2 separate regions of the Homo sapiens genome follow, and region 1 is linked to region 2. The links come from fine-mapping of genetic effects on gene expression. Tissue or cell type: whole blood. Region 2 holds a variant in brackets; the other region holds the start of a gene. All regions are shown on one strand. Distances are between the middles of the regions.

Region 1 (2,646 bases), 47 kb after region 2:
CAGATAGGACAGCCACCTCCTCCAACCTGGTAGTTTCAAAGCACCCAGGCCCTGGCTGCTCTCAAACCTCTTTATCCAATGTTTCCCCTCAGGGTCTAGCTGAGCAGTTACACTGGCTGACATTCTCTTAAGAAAGCCCAAGAGGAAATGTGCAGAAAAGACAATTTTCAGACCTTGTCTCACAGTCCTGCAGGCCCTGGGACAGGGTATCCAGGGATGTAGGTCTGGTCTAGCTGTATCCCTGTCTCGATAATATAGGAGACAAGGGTCAAGATCCTATCTCTCTGTGAACCATGAATCCTGGGAACGCTGTCAGTTCAATCAAACCCTGCAAAGTTGAATGAGATCATCTCTGGGAGAATTAGTATTTAGCAGAGGCTGCGGCTGGGGGTTGTGGAGAGCTGCTGCTGCCCTTTAGAAGCCCTTCCATTCCCCATCCCCTTCTCAGAAGAGAACCCACCACCTCCTCTCACCCAGGGGTACTCTTACCCTGATGCCCAGAAAAAGGACGACGCCCCCCCACCACAATTTTCACTCCTATCTCCAATTTCCTAAACAAAACCATCACAGCCAGGTACAGTGTCCACACACTCGAATGGAGCACCACCCCAGGCAGCCCCAGGGCAGGGGTTTCTCTCCCATCACCCTGGCCAGGCCCTGGTTCCAGCTGGTAGGCAGAGTGAAAAGGGGGTGTGTGCACGGGAGACTGGAGGGGAACAGGGACCCAAGTCCTCCGGAGGTGAGGAGAGGCTGGGTCCCCGCACCTGGGGTCACTAGCTGGGAGATAAAAACCAAGGCAGGTGGGGGTTCCTTCCAGGAAAGAGCCACACGGTGTCTCTCCCCTTCTCACCATTTCTCATTGATCAACCTTCTGTCTTCCCGTTCTCTCCCTTCCATCCCTCCCCTCCCTCTTTGTTTGCCTTCTCCTCGCCTCCGCGTTTGAGCACCCAGCCCTCCCCACGAGCGCGACTCGGACGCCGCAGTCAGCAGCTCGGGGACCCCGGCCCCGCGCCCGCCACCCGGCCCCCTGCCCTGACCGGCCCTCCCGGCTCCTGGTCTCACCCAGAAGAGCAGGTTGAAGCCAAGCAGCAGGTACTTGATGCACCGCAGGCCCCCGCGGAAGCGCCCCATGCTGCGGCCCGGCGGCGGGATCCCCAGTCCCCAGGCCCGCGCTACGAGCGCGGGGAGCGGCAGGCTCCGGCGGGGAGGGGGCGGAGCGGGGAGGACCGGGGCGGGGCCTCCGGGGGGCGGGGCGGGGCCCGGCGGGGAGGGGCGCGTGGACCCCAAGCGGCGTGGCTGGCGACGGGTGGGGGCGCCAGCGGGTGGAGATCGAGCAGCCCGAGGGAGCACGTTCGCTCTTCTCCCGGACCCAGGGACCACCTTCCTTCCCTCCAGTGGGCGCACCGCCGCCGGCTATCGGAGCACCTGCAGGGCGGGAGCGCCCACCGGGGACTGGGGACCCATTTAATCAGCGCCCTGTGCGGAGACCGGTTTGAGGCCCGGGCGATGCTTGAGGGATAAGCACTTGGTCTCGTGGCTATGGAAATCTAGGAAGGTGACCTCGGGTAGAAGAGCTAAGTGGGGTCGGAGGTTGCCCCGAAGCTGGCAGGACCAGTCGCGGGGCACCTGACTGAGTGTCCAGGGCTGCGGCTCCGCGGCGCGGAGCAAGCACACAAGCAGCTTCTAGGGGACCCTCCCTCCGGCCCCTCCCCCCTCCTCGGGGGACTCTTACCTTAATAGGCAAGAACTGAGAGAGGGTGCGGGAGGCGGCGCCCTGAGTCCTGTGGGCTGCCCTCAACCCAGCCGGCCAGTGGAGGGAGTCTGACTTCTCATGTCCTGCCGGGTTCCACTGATCGGAGGGCTTGGAAGGATCCCAAATTTTCGGGATCTTAATTATGATGTGGAGATGGGAGAAAGGGGAAGGGGGCGGTTTTTGTTTTGCTTTGTTTTTATTAAGTTAGGCTGTTGGCAGGAAAATCAGACTCCCACTTCCATTGACTAAGTGTCTACAATATGTGGTGTCAGACAGTATGGGGGAGACAAGAAAGCAAAATTCGGAGAGCTTATGCATAAATTCAGCAAAACTTTGAGTGCCTATTATAGGCCAGACATAGTAGCAAGCCCCAGGGACTCAACAATGAGGAGACAGCCAGGCCCAGAACCACAGTCTCTGGTGTTGGAGACAGATCTGTAAGCAAATAGGGTGAGGAGAGAAGGGCTGGGTGCTAGACAGGTGTGCCTGGCCTGACTGCCTTAACCAGAAAAGGCATTGCTAAGGAGAGGGGCCTGATCTGGTCTAGAAGACGGAGCCCAGGCGGAAAAGATCAGTCCAGGAAGACAGCATGCGCAAAAGCACAGAGCTGGAGAGAACAAGGCCTCCAAGGGAGTTCTGAGAACCGCAGTTAGCCCGAGTGAAGCCTGGTGGGGGCAGAGTGAGTCAGGAAGGCAGGAGCCAAATCACAGCTTTCAGTCGGCTGACCAATGTGCCAAACTGTCATTGGCCCCGAGTGTCCCCACGTGCAACATGGAGGTAATAGTACTCCCCTCATAGAGTTGTGAAGATAAATGAGTTAGTATTTGTGAAGTGCCTAGAACAGTGCCTGGCACAGATTAAGTACTGCATAAGGGTTAGTATTATTGTATCAC
Region 2 (2,848 bases):
TGGGCCTTGAGTGTCCTAGTCCTATGCTGGTTTGGGAGGTCATGGGTATCAGATGCAACTCAGCGCACTGCCAGCTGCAATGGCCAGAGTGCTTGAGTCACCCCTCCCACAACACCAAGTGGCCAACCCCAGAGAGGGACTCCTGCTTGGGGGAAAGAGAGGGAAGAGAGTGAGGGACTTTTCCTGGGTATCCAGGGACTTCCCTTATTTTTTCCAAGTCCATCAGGGATGGGTATCCAGGAATCTGTAAGGAATCTTAGTGTACCTGGGCTTTGGACACCCTCTAGTGCTGAAATAGCTGTAATGACACAGGCTTACTGAACTCAAGACTCAGCTGCCTTTGAATTCTTAGAAGGCCTTCTGAAAAAGGATGAGGATAAACAAGGCCAGACTATGAAGACTGGAATAAATACCCAACTCTTCAATGCCAAGACATCAATGAGCATCCAAAAGCATCCAGCACAAAACTTCAGGAAAATATGACCTCACCAAACAGACTAAATAAGGGGTCAATGGCCAACATTGGAGTGGTGGAAATATGTGATATCTCAGATAGGAAATTCAAAATAGATGTTTTGAGGAAGCTCAATGAACTTTAAGAAAACAGACAGAAAAAATTCAGAAATTTATTAAAGACATTTAACAAAGACATTGAAATAATAATAATAAAAAAGAAATAGAAATCCTGTAGCTGAAAAGTACAACTGATTAACTGAAAAATGCATAATCACAGTGTCTCAACAGCAGAACTGATCAAGCAGAAGAAAGAATGAGTGATTTCAAAGACAGGCTATTTGAAAACACAAAGTCAGAGGAGAAAAAAGAAAAAAGATTGAAGTACATTACGAGATCTGGAAGATAGCCTCAAAAGGACATATCTAAGAGTTACTGGCCTAAAGAGGAAGTAGAGAAAAAGATGGGGTAGAAAGTTTATTCAAAGAAATAATAGATCACTTTCTAAACCTAAAGAAAGTTATGAATATCCAGGCACAAGAAGGTTAGAGAATACCAAGCACATTCAACCCAAATGAGACTACCCTGAGGTATACAATGATTATGCTCTCAAAGGTAAAGGATAAAGAAAGGATTCTAAAAGCAGCAAGGGCTGCTTTTCTTTTGAAGCAAATAACATATAGAGGAGCCCCAATATGTCTTGCAGCAGACTTCTCAGCAGAAACCTTACAGGCCAAAAGGAAGTGGGAAGACATATTCAAAGTGCTGAAGGAAAAAAACTTTCAACTGAGAATATTGTACCCAAAAAAGCTATCTTTCAAACATGAAGGAGAAATAAAGACTTTGCTAGACAAACAAAAGCTGAAGGAGTTCATGAGCACCAGATCTGACTTACAAAAGATGCTAAAGGCAGTTCTTTAATCTGAAAGAATAGAATGCTAAAGTGTGACAAGAAATCATCTGAAGGTATAAAGCTCATTGGTAAAAGTAAATACACAAATTCAGAATATTCTCATACATTAACTGTGGTGAGTAAACCACTCATATCTTTGGTATGAAGACTAAAAGACAAATCTATCAAAAATAATAACTACAACAATTTGTTAAGA[C/G]ATAAGCAACATAAGGGCGGGTGTGGTAGCTCATGCCTGTGATCCCAGCATTTTGGGAGGCCGAGGCGGGTGGATTACTCGAGGTCAGGAGATTGAGACCAGACTGGCCAACATGGTGAAACCCTGGCTGTACTAAAAATATAAAAAAAATTATCCAGGCATGGCGGCAGGCACCTGTAATCCCAGCAACTAGGGAGGCTGAGGCAGGAGAATAGCTTGAACCTAGGAGGCAGAGGTTGCAGTGAGCTGAGATCACGCCACTGCACTCCAGCTTGTGTGACAAAGTAAGATTACATCTCAAAAAAAAAAAGCGAGAGAGAGATAAACAACATAAAAAGTTAAAAATGGAGACATTAAAAAGTCAAAAAGTGGGGGAAGATGAGTTAAATTGTAGGGTTTTTTAGTTTCTTCTAAAAACAACTAAAAAACTTGGTTGTTTGCTTCTTTTCTTTGTGATGAAAGTTACCAGTTTAAAACAAGTTATTATAACTATAAGATTTTTTGTCTCATAACAATCACAAAGCAAAAACCTATAATAGATACAGTAAAAATAAAAAGCAATGAATTAAAATGTATTACCAGGGAAGATAACCACAGAGAAAGATAGTAAGAATAAAATAAAGGACTTAAGAACCAGAAAACAAACAATAAAATGGCAGTAGTGTTTACCTATCATTAATTACATTGAATGTAAACATGGACCAAATTCTCCAATTTAAAAGACACAAGGTGACTGAATGAATGAAAAAACAAGACCCAACACTTTGTCTCTTTTTAAGTCAGAAACTGCAAAAAGAGACAAAGAAGGTCATTATGTAATGGTAAAGGGATCATTCTGCAAGAGGATATAACAATTGTAAATATAATTGTACCCAACATCAGAGCACAAAAAGAGAGCTAGATTCCAGTACAATAATAGTAGGGAACCTCAAAACCCAACTTTTGCCAATAAATAGATCATACAGAGAGAAAATTAAAAAAAAGAAACATGAAAAGTCAACTACACTCTAGACCAAATGGACATAACTGACATTTTCAGAACACTCATCCTACTGCTGCAGAATACGCATTCTTCTTGCCAGCATATGAAAACATTCTCCAGGAAAGACAACATGCAAGGGCACAAAACAAGTCTTAGCAAACTCAAAAAATTGAAATAATATCAAATATTCAGGCTGCAATGGAATAAAATCTAGAAATCAATAACAAGAAGAACACTGAAAATTGAATAAATACATGAAAATTAAACAACATGCTCCTCAATGACCAATGGGTCAATGAAGAAA

The links. PIP is the estimated chance that this variant, and not a neighbour inherited with it, causes the effect.
Region 1: TSPAN2 starts here. The variant in region 2 is the best candidate, but not a certain one, in a credible set for the expression of TSPAN2 in whole blood (INTERVAL, PIP 0.82).

Annotation. Positions count from the first base shown.
Region 1 is chr1:115,088,302-115,090,947 of GRCh38, forward strand. TSPAN2 (tetraspanin 2) reads right to left here and starts at 1,202. Exons shown (of 8, transcript NM_005725.6): 1 at 1,063-1,202. The coding sequence starts at 1,131.
Region 2 is chr1:115,041,576-115,044,423 of GRCh38, forward strand. No RefSeq gene overlaps it. Among named protein-coding and RNA genes, the nearest start is that of TSHB, 13 kb to the left of the region's middle. The variant C/G (reference allele first, on the strand shown) is at 1,563.